2 separate regions of the Homo sapiens genome follow, and region 1 is linked to region 2. Evidence: fine-mapped expression QTL. Tissue or cell type: whole blood. Region 2 holds a variant in brackets; the other region holds the start of a gene. All regions are shown on one strand. Distances are between the middles of the regions.

Region 1 (10,201 bases), 21 kb before region 2:
TTGGGGATAGGCCTGCCTGGGGCTTCAGGGTAGGGAGGGACAAGAGCTCAGTCCTGAGCTCCTGGGTCCTGGGATCCTGGCTCCTCACCCAGGATTGCCTGCCACTGACTCAGTGGCAGGAGGGGCCTCACTGGAAGCCAGCTTGTGGGGGCAGCTGCATGCGAGCCACACAATCACATAAGAGGAAGCACACACAGTACGCAATGCTGTGTAGTCAAGAAAGACTCACAATGTCCTACAGATACCTGTGGCCATAGTCCCAGGCACACACCATCACTCACTATCACACACGAACACAGCCAGGCTCCTGGTCACAGCTGTCCACTGTCATGCACAAGCACACACTGTCACTTTTAAGCACTTACATAGCTCACATGGTCACACATCACTATACAAAACCACACAGAGGCATACAGCCACAGACTCACACTGTCATACACAGACACACATAGACACACTTAGTCTTTGGCTTCTCAGGCTGGAGAGGAGTCCCAGAAGCCATTGTAACCACCCCGCTGCCTCTGGACAGGAGGACTTCACTCAGCCCAGACAGAGCCCACATAGGTGACATTTAATCAGCCAGGCTCTTCTATCAGAGCATTTAACAACTCTGTGTGTACCACATGCCTTCACACACACAAACACATCCACACTATCATATAAATATATAAGCAGACACGCTACGTGGTCATGTACATGAATATCCTCACAGTACACATAAGCAGCCACAAATACTCATAAGCATACAATGTACATACGTGTACATATTCATACATGCATACACATAATCATATATACATACAAGCATACATAACAGCTACATATATAACAGCTATATGTATAGCTGTTATATGCCTGTGACAATTCATGCACACACACATACACACCCACTACGAGCAGCCCTCCTTTTTATGAAAGCACTGCTGACCTCTGGGTGCCGTGGACAGAGAATATGAAGGGAAGGGCTGACACTGACTCCTCCTGAAGCCCTGCTTCTGCTCCTACCACCCCATCTTCTCTGCCCTCCCCCTAGCACTGCTGTCTGCTGTGCGGATCAACGGGGATGGACAGGAGGTCCTGTACCTGGCAGAAGGTGATAATGTGAGGCTGGGCTGCCCCTACGTCCTGGACCCTGAGGACTATGGTCCCAATGGGCTGGACATCGAGTGGATGCAGGTCAACTCAGACCCCGCCCACCACCGAGAGAACGTGGTGAGTGCTGGGCACAGGGGTCTCCTTCCTCTAGGCTTCATGATGTCTACCTGTTGGACAGCCAACATCCCAAAGGGAGAAGACTGACCTTGAACCTCCCCCAAGGCCTTTCAGGGAATGAGGCAATGGGGATGAGAGCTCTGCAATTGTGAATTAAGCTAGCCAGTCAGTCTACCTCCTCCCATCCCATTCTAAAAGGAAGATAAGTTGTAGTCTTTGCCTTCAAAAAGTTCCCAGTCTGACCATATATCTTTCCAAGTGCTTGATCTCACCTGATCTCACCAGTTCTGTAAGAGGTCAGTGGCTCAGGCATCATTATTCTCATTTTTTCAGCTGAGAAAAGAGTCTCAGAGAAGTTCAGTGAATTGCCCAAAGCAGCCAATCCACATGGCCCTTCTTGGCTCTGCCTGTTTCACCACCTGTTTTCCTCTCCTCTTCACAGTTCCTTAGTTACCAGGACAAGAGGATCAACCATGGCAGCCTTCCCCATCTGCAGCAGAGGGTCCGCTTTGCAGCCTCAGACCCAAGCCAGTACGATGCCTCCATCAACCTCATGAACCTGCAGGTATCTGATACAGCCACTTATGAGTGCCGGGTGAAGAAGACCACCATGGCCACCCGGAAGGTCATTGTCACTGTCCAAGGTATGGCCAGACTCCTCTAAGCTCCTCTCCCCCTGGCTTAAGAGCCAAGGGCAGCTTGGCCACTTTGAGCCTGGCTCTGTCTCTTGGCTGGGCCCTGGCTTACAATTGTCTGCCTCCTTGCAGCACGACCTGCAGTGCCCATGTGCTGGACAGAGGGCCACATGACATATGGCAACGATGTGGTGCTGAAGTGCTATGCCAGTGGGGGCTCCCAGCCCCTCTCCTACAAGTGGGCCAAGATCAGTGGGCACCATTACCCCTATCGAGCTGGGTCTTACACCTCCCAGCACAGCTACCACTCAGAGCTGTCCTACCAGGAGTCCTTCCACAGCTCCATAAACCAAGGTGAGAGGGCCCTGGATGAGGGCAGTCGGGGGTGAGTGGAAGATCAGGGACTCTGGGACCTGTTGGGGTTTCCTTGGGTTATCAGTGCCATCAAATCAAACCTGGAATCCCTGTGGGAGACCCTCCCTCTGGGCCTGCCCCAGCAGCTGCTATTTTTTTTTTTTTTTTTGAGACAGAGTTTCGCTCTTGTTGCCCAAGCTGGAGGGCAATGGCATGATCTCGGCTCACTGCAACCTCTGCCTCCCGGGTTCAAGCGATTCTCCTGCCTCTGCCTCCCGAGTAGCTGGGATTACAGGCATGCACCACCGCACCTGGCTAATTTTTTGTATTTTTAGTAGAAACGGGGTTTTACCATGTTAGCCAGGCTGGTCTCAAACTCCTGACCTCAGGCGATCCGCCCGCCTTGGCCTCCCAAAGCGCTAGGATTACAGGCGTGAGCCACCGTGCCTGGCCCAGCAGCTGCTATTGAGAGCAGATGATAAGGCAAATGTGGAGAGTCAGTCAAAAGTACTATGGCGAATTTGGAGGGAGCCTGGTCTCAGACAGAGCTGGGCTTGAATCCTGGCTGGGACACTGACTGGCTCCAAGTTTAAGGCAAGTGGCTTACCCTCCCTGTGCCTTAATTTCTTCATATATGGAAAGGGAATACTAACATATACCTTTCATGGGCATGCAAGGATTAAATGGGGGAGGTGTGTAAAGCTCCTAGTACATAGAGAAGCTGAAAATATTCAGTCAAACAAAGAATAATAGAGCTAGGAGGGACCTTAGAGTTCCTCTTCCCCTGGCTTCTCCTGTCCTCACTGTACAAAGGAGGAGACCAAGGCTCAGAGAGCGTACATATTTCCCTAAGGTCAGAGTGAATTAATGGTGTCCCTGTCTTGCTGCTGGGAGAGAGGTCCTTTCTTGCATCTCTTTCACAGCAGGGGGAAGGTGACTCACCTGGAGAGTGGAGTGTGTGTGTGTGTGTGTGGGTGTGGGTGTACACACATGCATAAGCCTTCCCTTCTTCTAGAGTGGGTGTCCCATCCCCCACCCCACAGGGACTGAGGTTGGGGTGGGAGCTCTCAGAGACCAGGCCTCTCTCCACTTCACTTTCAGGCCTGAACAATGGGGACCTGGTGTTGAAGGATATCTCCAGAGCAGATGATGGGCTGTATCAGTGCACAGTGGCCAACAACGTGGGCTACAGTGTTTGTGTGGTGGAGGTGAAGGTCTCAGGTAGGTGCAGCAGTCTTGAGGGCTGGGTGGTTGGGAGGGTTGAACTGGAGGAGGCTGGGCTCTGGTTTGGAGCCTCAGCTGCTTCTGCCTTTCCACTGCCATCCATTTGCCAGTGGGGGCTCCCAGCCCCTTTCCTACAAGTGGGCCAAGATCAGTGGGTACGATCTTGACCCTATTGAGCTGGGTCAAGCTCGCCCAGCACAGCTTCCACTCTGAGCTCTAGAGCCCAGAGCAGCTGGAAGCCCTGGGAGAAGCATGCTGACACGAGGGGTTAACTTGCATCTCCCCATATCTTCCCCACTGGGTGTTCCAGGGCTAAGAGACCCCCTGGGTCCCTCTCCCTCTTTCCCATTAACCCCTGACCTGGCACCTCCTGGTGCTGTTCCCTCAGGCACCTGCCAGGCTGTGAGAAAGCCTGACCTGCCTCCACTTCTCTCCACAGACTCCCGGCGTATAGGCGTGATCATCGGCATCGTCCTGGGCTCTCTGCTCGCGCTGGGCTGCCTGGCCGTAGGCATCTGGGGGCTCGTCTGCTGCTGCTGCGGGGGCTCCGGGGCTGGCGGCGCCCGCGGTGCCTTCGGCTACGGCAACGGCGGCGGGGTCGGCGGAGGGGCCTGCGGCGACTTGGCTAGTGAGATCAGGTAAAACCTGATGCATGCTGCATGCTGCTGTGCGGCAGGGAACCGGCGCCCTGCCCACCTCACTCCTGCCTGCCACCGGCCGGCTGGGCCCCCCACCCCAACCCTGCCCGCCATCGCCACGGAGTGCTGGGACTGCGGCATGTCGACCTGCCACCCAACTCATGGCTTTCCCCTCCCCCTGCCACCCCAGTCTTCACCTCTGCTCCCTGCCTTCCATTTCCCTCCTGCCTACGCACCTGTCTGTCTTGTCTAGACTGTAAGCTCCTGGAGGGCAGGGCCTATGTTTTTTCACGTTTCCCCTGTACTGCGCCGGTAAGAACTCTGACATTATTATTTAAGAAGAGCTAATAATAAGAATAGTGCTAATAACTTATATTAGAAGCAAACTAGAAATAAAAATAGAACAAGTCTAGTAGTGCTAATGATTGCAATGCCTCGGGGATGGAGGGAAAGATGGAGAAGACTGAGGGGCAGGAGGTGAGAAAGAGAGAGATTGCTCGAGCAAGGTCAGGATTAGCTAAGGAAAGAAGAAGAGGAAAAGCACCTTCTTCTGGGCCTGCGAAACATCAGAAAGGGATTGCAGGGGCCTGGAGGGGGCTGCCTGCAGGGCTCTCCAGATACGCGTGGACAAGCCCTGTCTGGAGGATGGGGATGCTGGCTCCGGGACCGCTGCAGGGTCGCCGACCCAGGAAGGGTCACAAAGGACAGTAGGTCGAGGCCGAGGGAGAGAGACGAGGGCAGGTGGAGGGAGGCGCGGGAGACAAGAGGTTGCCAAGAGCCCCCGGCTCTGCCCAGGCCGTGCCCACGCCCCGCTGCGGAGCAGCCCGCTCACCCGCCCGCCTGTTGTTTTCCACAGAGAGGACGCCGTGGCGCCCGGGTGCAAGGCCAGCGGGCGCGGCAGCCGCGTCACCCACCTCCTGGGGTACCCGACGCAGAACGTCAGCCGCTCCCTGCGCCGCAAGTACGCGCCTCCCCCCTGCGGCGGCCCCGAGGACGTGGCCCTGGCGCCCTGCACCGCCGCCGCCGCCTGCGAAGCGGGCCCCTCCCCGGTCTACGTCAAGGTCAAGAGCGCGGAGCCGGCTGACTGCGCCGAGGGGCCGGTGCAGTGCAAGAACGGCCTCTTGGTGTGAGCGCGCGCGCCGGGCCGGGCTGCGCCCCAGCCAGGAGGAGGGCGCGGGGCTCTCTGTCTGCAGCTGGGGACACGTCGGGGCTGGGGACGACCTCGCTCGCCCCAGGCTGCCAGGCGGCTGGGGGTGAAGGCATTTCCCTAAGGAAATGCGTAGGGAGGCAGAGCCTCCTCCCCAAAAGTGGGAAGGGGCGGGCGAGGGCGGAGGAAGGCGATCCTGAGCCTTCTCCGCACCCCCGGGACCGAAGGCTTGGGGGAGAGGGAGGGAGGAGGAGGCTGAGTGTCCTAGAGCGGCTGAGGCCGGAGGCCTGGTGTCCCCAGCCTAAGCAGAGGGCCCCGGGGGCCGGGTGGGTGGGGGTCTGTCTGGACGAATTGTTCTGTGTGTGAGGTCTGAGCTCTGAGGCAGCAGTGTTAGCACAATAAAGAAACATTGAGACGTGAGTCCGAAGTGGCTGTCCGCGTTCCACGGAGGTTGGGCACGGGGTGGCGAACCCTGCCCAGGGCCGGGGAGGGTTGCTTCTGTCGCTCGCCTCGACCACGCCCCCTCTCCTCCCTCCTGCTTAGATCCCTGGCAGTCAGAGCTGGAAGGGGCCATCCAGGGCAACTCCTCTGAACAACATACAAAGTGCAGATAAAAGGAAAACAAAGACAAAAAGAATTAGCTCAGAATATCTACGACCGTAAAATAAACTGAGGAACCGACAAAGTGCAATACACTTGCCATTTCTAAATATTCAAAGTTTTCACATGTCAAGATTTTCTATTGAGAATAATGTGCTCTGAAGGTCTAGGGAGTCTTTGTATGTTGCTGAAAGCTAAAAGGAAACCAGTCCTTGGAGCACAGAAGGCACAGGCATCCGGTGAGACAGAAACAAGGACATGTGAAAATAAGACTACAACCTCTTATATTAAAAAACTAAGTGCCACAGTTCTAGGGTGCTGGGTGAAGTGCAGGAAGGAGGGGGAATAATATTTATATAGCATATATTATGGAACTCGGAGAGTATGGTAAATCCCTTCACCTAGATGCTGCTGGTGTTTTAGAACAATTATTTTTGTGGTTCTTTTTTTTTTTTCATTTGTCTGCAGTTGGTCAACTTGTGCAGAGCCCATTCTGCAGGAGATGTTTGAGAAATACCAAGTGAATGAGTGTGGCAGCATTACTTTATGCTAGAAAAAAAAAGTTTTTAGATATTTTACAGTTACTGCCTTATGATGGAATATTCTGTGGTGAGAATCTAGGCCTTTCTGAGATCCAGCTCCACGTTCTTACACCCTGAAGTAGTCAGCCACTCCTAGATAGGGATTAATTGAGCTATTTAGTATTTACCAGCACTTGTTTTGTTAAACACCTTGTCATGATATTTACAATGTATTTTGGGGGATGTTTTAGTCATTTTTGGTTCAAAAGTGGAAATCAATAAGCACTGTTTTTGTTAATAGGCGCAAGACGTCCTCTCTTGTTTAGTGAGATGGGGAGTGCTTAATTGAAGAGTAATGTTTGAGATAAAGTTCCAAGGATATATTTGCTAAGCAAACAGTAAGTAAAGTGGGCAGTGTTATAGATGTTCCTTTGTTGATAAAGGGACCAGGTGGTCACACAGCAAGGAGGGGGATGCAGACAAGTAGACAAGCTCTACTAATCCTTCTTTGTTCAACATCATCTCTGTTGGGCATTGGAATCTACTTTGCTAATGCAATGCCCACTTGCCTATAATTTAAGAATTTCTAATATGGAATAGAAATGATTAATAGGAGAAGCTTGGCTGGATTAATTTCCTGTGCTGAGAAAGATTAAACTTAAAAAAAAACAGTTAGGTCCATCCTAAATGCCCAAGATTTAAGAAGGAACCTCATAGTTCAACTGGGTATTTGATGAATGTGAATGATTTTGTATTTGATGAGCTGATGAGGACAGTATAGTGATGCAGAGGGTAGGTGCTTGTACATCTGAATTGTCTGGGCTGTTTCTTATTTTATATGTAATTTATTTGTATTTAAAGAGTTCATTTTATGTTAGATTATTTGTGCTTTGGTAGCAAAAATATATTTGAAAGGGTAAGTTCCTGAAATCAGCAGTTTCATGTCTGCTAGGAGACAAGTATCAGGAAAAGTAGTGTGGGTTCTATCATTTCCATGCTACAACTTGGATGGTGTTACCTTACCACTTTGGTCCCTTGTTTCAGGGATGTTAGAACTTAGCTTAGACCTTCCTCAGAATCCTTTTGGACTTTGTGTTTCATTTGTTTGGCCTGCCTTGATTTTATTTGGTCATCCTTCTTGATTCTTTCATATTATTTGTTTACACTTAACTCTGGAATATTTTGGTGGTTGTTTTCAATGTACTGTAGGTCTTTAAATTGGTTTATAATGAATTATTGAGGAGAATAGCAAGTTGTTGACATTATATCTGTCTGTAGTAACATTAGAATATTTCCATTTCAATTTGTTGGGCAATTTGCTTGTGGAAATATAAGATGTTATATTTAGTTCTATCAAAACCAGGATCTCAATATTATTCTTTTGGCAGGTTGCTGCGTGTGTGTGTGTGTGTGTGTGTGTGTGTATGTGTGTCTGTCTGTCTGTCTGTCTGTCTTTGATTTTTTTCCTTCATATTTTCCCCTTAATTCGGTGTCGGTCAATACTGTTGCTGTTTCACATCCATTGTCACATAAAACTAGTCATCTCATTCTCCCAGGCCCCCTGTCCTTGGGAAGGGATGTGCACTCTGCAGGTATTAGTGATTTTATATAGCTGCATGAGTTGCTGGGAAAGGCCTTGGCTGGATTTATAATGAGCTGTGTTTACTGAGCATTATGAAGTAAAGTTCAATATGATTACTCTGAAGTCTGACCTAAAAAAAATCCTACTCCTTCACTATACAGATAGGGAAACTGAGGCCCCTCAGGCTGGACTTTAAATCCCCAATCTTACTTTTCCATTTTATTCTAGAAGGTCAGTTGAGAGGAAACACGGCTCTGTCATGGATGACCTCTAAATGATCCCTGACCATTCTTAGCATCCTTCTTTCTCTTCCCCTCATTGACCTAATCTTGACTTCTTTTATCTCTTTCAGATGTATGCCTTCTTTCTTAATAGCCAGGAAGTGTTTTAGAGTCATACTCTCTGGTGTAGAAAGACCTTCAAGGCCAACTAACCCAGCTCCCCCTTTTGGTGGGAAGGGGATTGGCATTTATTGAGCACCTATTAAGTGTTAGGTGCTTTTTGATTTTTTGTCTTATTTATTCCTTACTTTAGTCCTATGAGGTTGTGTATTATCCCCATTATACAGATGAATAAACTGAGGCTCAGAGGGATTAGGTATCTTGACCAAGGCAACAAAGATAATAAAGATAATTCAGGATTTGATCTAGGCATGTTTGATTCCAGGACAGCAGGCTGTTTCTCTGGCATTTGAATTCCTTCTATAGCATTCCTGACAAAGGGTATGTAACGTCTTCTTGACAACCTCCAATGGCAGCTCACTACCTTCCGAGGCAGGCCACTTGGCCTCTGACTGTCAATATTCAACAGAACATTTCTCTGAACCCGGTTTTTGTCCCCATATAGCTTTTATCCCTTGATCCAAGTTCTACTCTTAGGGACCCCAGAGCATTGTATTTCTAATTCAGCTGCCTCTAGTGGACAAAGTGGTTGCACTCCATACAGGATGGCTGCAACAGGGACACAACTGGACACTTGTCTGGTCTAGTTGGTAGGAGGTGTTCAGAAGAGCACAGTACTTCAAGGTCACTTCGTTCTACTTTCCTTTCCCCAGCTGCTTGCTTGTTGAGAGCCCAGCCTCTTTCTTCTCTCTTTGTCTCTTTTCTCTTGAGGAGAAGCTAGTCTTCCTCATTTTTCCTGCTCCTATTCTAGGGCCACAGGAGGTGTGGGGTGTGCATGGGCCTCAAAGTGTCTTTAGGAAGCCCCTAAACACTTCTTAGTAACACATAACTAGGAAACCCTCAAGATGACTTGGGTATTTGCAAAGGGGTGATGGCATTGCCAGCTCTGCTTTTATAGAGCGTGCTGAGAGACATGAGAGATAGTAATGAGGCAAAAGGAACCAGAGACCACTGTCTTGGGGGTGGGAAGGTGGGGAGTTCTTGGGAATGGGAAGAGGTATAGGGAAAGGACGTTAAATAAGGAGAAGAGCAGAGAACTCCAGGAACCATCCATCCCTTCATTTATTTGGTCATATTTATGAGCACCTATAAGACGACTTGTCATAGATGAAGAGATCTTCAGCAGGGCACTGTGCCTGGCATATTTTTGCCCTAAGGCAAAATATCCCCTAAGGCAGGGGATGGTATAGGATGACTTGGGGAGGGTGCTCCCTGTCTGAGGAGCCTCCAGCTTAGCTTCCTGAAAGGTGCTGAGGGACAGAGGCAGCCAGTTGGCTGTGCAGGTTGTTGAATGATATAATCTTCCCTATTCCAGGAACAAGGGAGCCATGATCAGACTTGGCCTCTATTTGGGGGGTGGGACCAGTGAGGCTCTGGCAAGAAAGGCTCACTAAAGAGCAGCAAGAGAGATTTTATAGAGACTCTGAGAACAGCTTCCTGTTAGGGTGAGTCAACAGGGAAGGTAGAGATTTCCTAAATCCAATGCTGAGATCACAGTCGTCACTGTACTTACCACCCCAGGAGAACGAGGGAAGGAAGTTTCTGTTTGAACAATTTTGCTTCAGGGATGCCTTGGTGTTTTTTGTTCATTTCTCCTGCATGAAACCTTGTTCAGTGCTGGAGGAGAGCACTTGTGGTGACATATGTTCAACAGTGGCTTTGGGAGTAGGGTGTAGGGTGGGGTAGGGACTGGGAAGCCCTGATTTGTAGCCTTTGCTGATTTCCATGATGTCAATGCTTCCACTATGGCTGAATTCAAGCTACCAACATGATGTGACTGGCATGGAATTGGGAGAAATGTTTAGTAGCACATGATTGTATAGTATTTCCATGATACAGATACAATGGAGGAAGTAAATAACTTTAAGAGCTTAGGTAATAGTGAAC
Region 2 (8,974 bases):
GGAGATGATGCTTCCTCTGAAGATCAGTAAGTAACCAAGAGTGATTAACTGAACAGGTGCTAGTTCTTAATACACATGGAAGAAAGATTTGCTACAGGTGTCATTAATGTTTGCAGCAGTTTTTTTTTTTTTTTTTAATTGAGACGGAGTCTCACTCTGTTGCCCGGGCTGAAGTGCAGTGGCACAATCTCAGCTCATGCAGCAGTTTTTTTAAAAATGAGGCACTGAATGTTCATGTCTCCATTGATGAGAAAAATGTCCTCTCTAACCCTTTTCTTATGCTATTCCCCTTTCCTATTCTCTCTGATATCATGTTTCATGAGCCCTTTGCCCTAGCAGCTCTTGTATTTGTCTTTTGTACAGGAGAACAGATGCAAAAACTATTGCTCAAGGAAAATAAAGTGAAAACGAGGAAAAGCAAAAGAAGATCTGGAGAGGGCTCTCACCTGACCACAAGCATCCTGGAGCAATGAGGTAGAGGGTGTTCTGGGAGGAGTCTGATATCTGGACTCTCGAGGGGTTCTTTCTGTCATTGTAACTCCAACAAAGGGGCATTCCGACGAAGTCCCATATGATGTGGCCCCAGGCCATCTCTCTGTACTCTTGTCCTTCCCCTCTCTCTCCCTTGTTTGGATCCAGCCCCTCTGGCCTCCACTCTCTTCTTTGCAAACACCAACCATGCTGCCATTTTAGGGCCGTTGCATTTTCTGGTCTCTTTGTCTGGAACACTCTGTCACTGCATGCTCACTCCTCCACTTCACTGGGCCTCTGTTCAAATGTCACCCCATTGAGGGTGTCATCTGATTGCTTTATCTAAGACAGACCCTGTCTCCCCAACAGATTGTTCTCTAGCCCTTTACTCTGCCTTGTCTTTAACAGAAACTAACAACATCTGACATATGCTTACTTGTTTATTTATATTATCCAGACCATAAACTCTCAAAGGCAAGGGTTTCGCTTGACTACTGATTCCCAAGTGCCAAGAAATGTACCCAGCACATGCAGCGCCCTCAATCAATATTTGTTGTGGTGTGACTTACAAAGCATCAGTCTCAATGCTCATTAGCACAAAATTGGTCTCACAGAAGCACTTTGTGTTTTTTTGGTGGAGGGTTAATTAGTCCACTAGTTGACAAGTGAGTCATTAAGGATGGGAACTTTATTAGAGCAGTGTGGATCTGTTCAACAAGGCCCTGGTGCACCACGCTACAAACCACTGTCGAAATGAGGTTGCTAAGAGTCACCTTGTGGAGGGAGAGCTGCAGGTCCCATCTCATCCAGAGCTGCTTTGATCTGAGGTGGGGCCCTGGAGATGAACGAAAGAAAGGTGGGGAGTGCTGTGTATTTTTTCCCCACAAATCCACCAGGGCTCATTGTCAGATCCTGGGCTTTCCTTTCCACATCATTTTTAGGGACTGAGGCCAGTTTTGCATGATTCAGTGACCAGGCATGTGGCCTGACTGTAGGTGGCAGGTGGGGATGGTGCAAGCTGACAGGTTGAGTGGCCATGGACCCTGTTCAGGTAATCTTGGGGGAAGGTGATAGGAGAGAAGTGGGTGTGGGAAAGGGATGAGAATTTGATAAAGCCAGGTTACCAACAGGGAACCTCTGAGCAGGCCAGGCAGGGAGGATCTGGGAACAATCGAGTGGAAGAGTGGTGATGTGGATCTGGAGGCCAGCTGTGCTGATCCTTTGTCCAAGGTGAAGTGATTGCCCAGGAACTGGGGAGAAGAGGGAAGGTCCTTGGACAGGGCTGACATCCTAGGTGGGGAGATTGAAGCCACCCTGGGAAAATAGTACTTCAAACCCACCCCTGTTTCTTCAATACCTCTTTCCTCGCTGTTATCAAGACTGGATTGAGGCCCCAGAAAAAATCCAGTTACACCTGGGTGAGAGAAACTGTGAACCTTATCAGCTAATAATCCCCGAAGGTAAGTTTAGCTCCTTAAGTGTTTTTCCAGTAGTGATCAATACTCCAGAGCTTTTCTAGACAGAATCATTCAGGGGCAGAATGTATTTTCCTAAGATGGCCACAATAAAAAGTTTGATGGAGTCAGAGTGACCTCTACAGTCCTGCTGTTGGGCTGTGGGGTCTTTGTCCCCTCCCCTTGAACTAAGGTAAGTCTTCTGCATTTGCATTTGAAAATGAATGTGGCAGATTCTAGAGTGCCTCAGTACCCTTTCTCTCCATAATGTTCCTTCTGCATAGCGTTTTATGGTTCTTCACTCTCTCAGTTTCAGGCAGGAAGACTCATCCTGAGCTGAGCTGCTTTTCTTGAAGTTGTGCAAGAACGTCCTGTTGGCTGGGGCAAATTCAGTATTTCTTTTCCTGGCCACTGTGCTGGAGCGTGAGGAAAGACTCTCCACCCTCACTCCCAGATCCTGCAGGAGGCGTGAGAGCGGATGGAGATGGTGAGGATGTCTATTAATATGGTGTTTCCTGCAAAACGGTGCCCATCTCAACCATGGGTTGTCAACCATCCTCGGTGTCTACAACTGCAATTTACCTTTGAGGGCCCATGAACTCTGATTACCTGAAAGTCCTTAGGCCAGAAAGAGAAACCCCTGTCCCCCACCTCTCACTTTCACCTATTTCTAGACCTTTTCTTACAGCAATGCCTTGGCCCTCAGGAAGCATCAGATCTCAAACTGCAGGGTCTGGGGCTGAAGCTGATGCTGGCATGGGTGACTCAGAGTTCCTCTATTAGTTCAAATATGTAATATCTTTTAGAGCCTAGGACTCAGGCTGGAGGCAATTCCTTGGTGCCAGTTGGTTAATACTTTATGAATAGTGGTGGGGGAGGGAATGCCTTGGACTATTAATGTCCCCATGGATCTGGATCCTGGAGAACTTCCAGTGTCCTGGATGGAATGTTCTGCTTGGCTCATCTTGCCCAGAGAAGAGCCAGGATATGAGAAGATGGGAGAGGGAAGGGGGAGGTGTGAAACGTGCTGGTGCTTCCTGTCCTCGTGGTGTGATGGCTGCCCAGGCTGCTCCTTCGAGGCAGGACAGGATTCCCATGGGAGATATGAGGACCATGGTGATTTCCAGGCACCAGTTATGTCCCAGAGCATCGTGTGCCTGTGCAGTGGGGTTACTGATAGTCCAGGCATCAGTTCATATTGTCCTTTATGGCAGATCCTGCACAAGGGGGTTCTCTGTCTCTGGACCCACTCTGTCAGCATGGACATCCTTTTTCTTTTTCCCTGGTAAGGACATCAGAAAGAAAGTTACCCCTCCAGTGTTTGGAGTCTTGGAATCCTTGGCCTGCCTGCAGGCCTCTGAATCCTCAGTGTGTTAGCCCAAGGTCACCTTAGGTAAAGGAACATTTCTCCTGGTCTTCCAACACCCTGGAAAGGGAGGCTCTTCAAGAATAGGAAATTCTTCCTAGTATCTAACCTTGGCCTGCAACTATGCCATACATTTAATTGTAGAAGGTATGGAAAGTTAGGACTGTGGTGGACCCAGTTAAATCACTGGACAGAAGCCATGAGGCAGAGCCAGAACCAGCTTCTGGACTCCCTGC[A/G]TGGAGCTTTCTACTATCCCAGGTTGTTGGGTCCCTTCTCAGTGGCCAAAGATGCTATTTTATGAGCCTTGAGGACATGACACTAAGTGAAAAAAGCCTGGCCAAAGGGCCACATAGTGTATAGTTCTATTTATATGAAATGTCCAGGAAAGACAAAAGCATAGAGGCAGAAAGCAGACTAGTGCTGTGGGAGGAATGGGGGATTTGGGAGGTGATGGCTAAGGGGTTATGGGGTTTTGGGGGAGGTAATAGAAATGTTTTAAAATTGGTTGTGAAGGTGGATGCCCAACTCTGCGAATACACTAAAAGGCATCGAATTGTATACTTTAAATAGGTGAATTGTATGCTATGTGAATTATATCTCAATAAAGGTATTTTTTCCCTGCTGTTTTCCTGGCTTCCACTTTCTTATCACAAATCCTGGGGACTCTTGGGGCAGGGGCCAGGGGCCAGGGGCCAGGGCAATACCCTCCCACAGCAGATGGGGCCTTCAGGTGGAGTGCAGGCTCAGCTGTTCCCTCTTGCCCTTCTCTCTGCTGGAGAGAATGAACAGGAATCAGCATTGCCTGTCCCCATGCTTAGAGGCTGGACCCAGACCCTGCCTTCTGGGACACACCCACCATAGTGAGGGCTCAGTGACTCCTCCTTGCTGACTCCCTTTCTCCACCTTGGGACAAGCCAGCTCCGACAGCCTGGCATGGAAATGACCACGGAGCCCTGGTCAGTCGGGTAGTTCTTTCAGGGGCAGGGCATCCTGCGGCAGAGGAAGGGACTGAGCTGTATGTAGAGCTTAGAACCAGGTCTGATCTTGGAGTTTCCCCTTCCTTCCTCTTCTCAAGAAGGCAACCCTATCAGCCACTGGCCAGGGAGTAGCTTATCTTAGGGAGCCATTTTGTAGAAATCTCAGGCAAGAAGGGGTTCGGAGTCATTTAGACTCCCACTCAACAATGTTTGTCGATACCAGCTATGTTTCAGGAAGAGTTGTGTTCTGGGAACCACTGACATGCCCAGTGTTGACCCAGCATCCTCCTTTTAAGGGCTCAGAATTCAGTGGGGAAGTAAATGTAAGTAGTTCTCTGATTGGGGTAAGCAATGGAGATTGAAGAAAGGATGTTAATCAGCCTGAGTATTGGGGCAATCAGGGAAGGCTTTCTGGAGCAAGCACACCTTGAAGACTGAGTATGAGATAGCCACATGAAGGGGGGAGGCTGGGTGGGAAATCATGGAAAGTGTGTTCCAGGCAGAGGGAATACAATGTACAAAGGTCTGCAGATGGATGTGAGAGAACAGTTCATTTGGAGAACCACATAAGAGACTTCAAGTAGTTGAGTCTGGTTGTAAACCAAGATATGAGCTAGAGAAGGCCAAGAGATGAGGTGGGAGAGGTAGGAAGGGGCAGACCATCTGAAGCCTAAATAGGAGGAGGTCCAAGACCCCCTCCTCCCCAGGAACTCCACTTCCTCCACCTACCTCCTGCACCTGCAGGACTCCTACCTGAGCAGGGGCACCAGTGCCAGGCAGAGAAGAGAGTAACCAGCATCAGGAGCAGCGAGACAGGCACCACCACCAGCAGCACATCTTTGTAGGAGGCCTTCCCTGGTGCTGAACATGGAGGGGTGGGGTTAGAGGTGGACTTGATGCTTCATAAGCCCTCAACCACTGACTGCTGGCCCTTAGCATACCTGCCTCATGATGACAGCTATCCCAGGGCGTGACTGTGGCCAAGTCCCAGCTGACAGGGTTGGAGACAATGCAGGAATAGGCCACATCTCTGTCTCCTGGTCCCAGGGAAATGCTCAGCACCTGTCCGTCTGTGAAGAGGCTGTGTGGTTCCATACCAAAGTCCATGGTTGTCTCCCGTCGCCAGCTATAGGTTATTTCGCTGATGTTGGGGGCCCAACAGGACAAGAAAACCTGGCAGGTCTTGGAGGGCTGAGCATCCCTTTCTACAGCAATGAACACTTGTACCACGGGCCTGGGCACTGCATCTGGGAAAGAAAAGTACAGCTGGTATGGGTCTCAGGGATGCTGGGCAGGGCCCACATCTCTGGCTCTGGGATCTACCCAGGGTTAGATGCCACCTCTGGCTAGGCCTCTCTTGTTCCAAAATCTTGTCTGGCTTTCCACTGCCCACAGGACAGAAGCTGAATTCCTTAGCTTGATATTCAAAACCTTTCAGGAAACGATTCATGCCCATCTCTCCAGCTGTACCTCCTGCTGCTTCTCCCTGCTCATCCTAATTAATTTGCAGTTTTCCCAAACATGTCATGCTCTTGAATATCTTTCATGCTTTCACATAATTCATCTGCGCACACAGATGCCTTTCCCTTCTTGTCCTCCTAGAAAACTTCTACCCATCCTTCAAGGCCCAGCTTGAACACATTGCTTAATGCCTTGACTGTGAAGCCTTCCCAGGCATGGCTCTGAGCTCTCCAAGCACTCTATCTCTTTTTGTAGTATTTCTCTCACAATATGTCAGTCAGTCAACAAGAGATGACAAGCATTTATTAAGTCAGGCAAGAAAACAAACACATTCCTAGCCTTCTGGAGCTTACAGTTTGGTGAGAAAGACAAATACAAAATGATTATGAATAATTAATTAAATAATTATGAGGGTGCAAAATGCTGTGAAGGAGGGGCCCAGAGGTGGGGGCTCTGTCTTGTTAGCTTAGTAAACTTAGCTCTGTAGTGCTGGCAAATAGTGGGTGCTCGATATCTGGTCACTGAACAAACTGATATCCTGGTGTCCTAGCCATGGATTCCCCTTTCTATACAGGTTGATGAGTAAATCCTGAGTCTCAGTGGAAATGAGGCCAGTGGGAGAGCATTCTGGTGACAACAGGAGGGCTCAGTCTCTGACAGCATTCCAAAGTCAAGCAGAGAAAAACCTCGTTAATGCCAGTTCAGTCTGGTGGGATTTGTGATATGAAAGAGAAATGATTTGCTGGGCACACTAATAGTATAAACAAAGATTACAGGGGGGATATTTACATCACTTAAGAGGACAAGCTGCTTCCAAACACGATCAAGCACAGTAGAAACACCCATTGACATTTCTAGTAACTGATCTGCTAATTCAAATCGTTCTTATCTATTGTCAAAGCAGAACTCCTAAGGACGGCTGCTTGGCAGCTTCGTGCAATTAGTTCTAATCACGCTATGTATTTGGAAGCAATAAAACAGCAATTTCCTTAAAATCTGTAATTCAGCTGCTGAGAACAAGGCATTTTAGAGCTTAGTGGTGTGGGTGCTGCATGTATTATCACATTCAATGTCCTCATTTCACATGTGCGGCAGCTGAGACTCAGATCAGAGGAGGGGCTCCAGGGCTGCCTGTATGGTGGGGTAGGTTATTCACTACACAAGGACATTGGGCTAAGGGGGGTCACAGGGTAACAGGTGGCAGGGGGTGGGGGGTGCTGAAATCCAGCCAGCACTCTGCTTGCCAAGATGAGGCTCAGGGCTGCGTGCATCCAGAAAGGCACCTTGCAATTGCATCGGCACCCTGAGTGGCTCGCCCAAGGACAGCCAGTTAGCTGTCTCGGGGGGATTCAAGACATCTCCCCAATTTGCTTACAATCTTTATCTCCCTCATGGCTACCCTCTTCCCAGCTGCTACCTCTGCTTTCCATTCTTAAATCTGGACTCCCCTCTCTTCCACTCTATCTAAATTTCTAAGGTTTTACTGAAACAGTGATTTAGGGTCACCCATGCCTCTTTTCTAGCCCATTAGGTAGATAAATGAGAGCTGAAAGCCACTCTTTCTTGACCAGAAGACAAATGATGAAGGTGGTGGAGGTGGCTGTGGTGGAGGTGGAGGTGGAGTTGTTGGGAAACAAGGCCCACGCAGCCCCCAGTCCATGCAGCCAACCGAGGTGCTGAATGTAGCTGCGCGAATGGCTCTGCAGACCCATGCGAAGCAGAAGTCGCACCCAGCTGGGCCTGCCAACCCACGGAATTATGAGAAGTAAACATCGTTGTTGTTTTCAGTCAGTAAGTTTTGGGATGGTTTGTTTTGCAATGATGAATGACTGAGAGAACCCATGAATCATATATAGTTAAGATCTCTCTAAGAAGCCCTTTTAAGAAATGTGTAAATTCTATACTTTTAATTACAGTTTCATTATAATTTGATTTTTAAATAAACCCATTATGTCATAGTTTAGTATGGTACATCATTTTTTTTCCTTTAGACTAATGACACATAGTCTACACAGACTACATAGACTACATAGACTAGTGGCACATCTTATAGTCTATGATGATCCTTTAGAACTGAGGAAGCACAGGCCAGGCTCTGTCCTGGATGCCACTGCAAATGCCACTGCATTTCATCCTGTGGGTACTCTACATGGTAATATTACAATGCCCATTTACAAAGGAGAAAGGTGAAGGCCAGGGAGGCTAAGCATTGTGTCCAAGGCCACTGAGCCAAGAAAAGACTGAGCTAGAGTTCAGGCAAGCACTGTGAAATGGCAAAGCCTGGCTGCTGCAGCCAGGAGGAATTTTCTTAGACGTGACTGCCAGGGAGCAGCTGTTCCCTGAGTCGGCAACATGGTCAGAGACCAGAGCTTTCTGGAACCCAGCTCTCCCTGGCTGCTATGACTCAGGATGCTCGTCTGGTGCTTTGTGGGGGAAGAGGGCCAGGCAGCCAGTGTCAGACACACTCACCGTACACCTTGAGCTGGAGGGTCTGGGTCCAGGGCTGGCCCCTTGTGTCCACCATCAACACGGAGAAGTTGCCGCTGTCTCCAGACTCCAGCGGCCCGAGCTCCAGGCTGAGGTTGCTGTGTAGCTGGGCTCGGCCCAGGAAGCGGGAATGGTACAGAGTCTCCAGGGAGCCTCGGAAAAACGTGGCCAGGAGCTCTTCTGAAGGCCAGAGAGATCGCCAGATAGCCTCACGGACTTGGAAGCCAGGGGGACGCGCTGCCACCAGCAGCACCGAGCCCCCGACTTTGCTCAGCACTTGGGCACCAGTAACTGTAATGGGAAGTAGGGCTGAAAGAACAGAGCCCCTGGTCACTCTGCCTGCCCCACACTCCTCATCCTTCTTTGCATGCATCTGAGCTGCTATAGGGTGAATTGGGGCCCCTCCACTGACATTCCCTCCACTCAAGTTGAGGTTGCACTGTGCTAGGTACCAGGGATAAAACATATGGAAGATAACCCCAGTCTCTGCATTCATGGAACTTACAGAGGAAGCCAGACATTCAAGAAATCAATAAAAATGAATTCTGTTAAATACCATGAAGGGAAAAATGAGATGCCCTGGGAGAACACAGGTAGGGTGACAGGGGATCTCACCCAGCCTTGATGGGCTCAGAAAACAAATTGTTAAGCTGAGCCTTGAAGAGGAATGGGAATCAGCCAGGCCAAGCCGAGGGCGGCCTGGAGCAGGATAGGGAAGTGTCACCGGCAGAGGGCACAGTACTGACAAAGGCCTGGAG

Evidence for each region. PIP is the estimated chance that this variant, and not a neighbour inherited with it, causes the effect. A credible set is the group of variants that fine-mapping cannot tell apart.
Region 1: SNHG28 starts here. The variant in region 2 is the best candidate, but not a certain one, in a credible set for the expression of SNHG28 in whole blood (TOPMed, PIP 0.81).

The regions. Positions count from the first base shown.
Region 1 is chr1:159,849,745-159,859,945 of GRCh38, reverse strand. SNHG28 (small nucleolar RNA host gene 28) reads left to right here and starts at 4,909. Exons shown (of 5, transcript NR_147125.1): 1 at 4,909-5,189. It overlaps VSIG8 (V-set and immunoglobulin domain containing 8), which reads left to right. Exons shown (of 7, transcript NM_001013661.1): 2 at 1,034-1,212; 3 at 1,655-1,856; 4 at 1,980-2,201; 5 at 3,303-3,422; 6 at 3,865-4,063; 7 at 4,920-5,630. The coding sequence ends at 5,193. LOC124900450 (small nucleolar RNA SNORD64) reads left to right here and starts at 7,974; the gene lies at 7,974-8,040. It overlaps LOC107985216 (a long non-coding RNA gene), which reads right to left and starts at 5,099. Exons shown (of 2, transcript XR_001738263.2): 1 at 4,978-5,099. RefSeq lists a silencer at 4,887-5,296.
Region 2 is chr1:159,829,417-159,838,390 of GRCh38, reverse strand. It overlaps SLAMF8 (SLAM family member 8), which reads right to left. Exons shown (of 5, transcript NM_020125.3): 2 at 8,199-8,525; 3 at 5,210-5,515; 4 at 5,022-5,129; 5 at 899-3,207. The coding sequence ends at 3,131. SNHG28 (small nucleolar RNA host gene 28) reads left to right here. Exons shown (of 5, transcript NR_147125.1): 4 at 364-474; 5 at 2,236-3,913. Among named protein-coding and RNA genes, the nearest start is that of SLAMF8, 7.0 kb to the right of the region's middle. The variant A/G (reference allele first, on the strand shown) is at 3,528.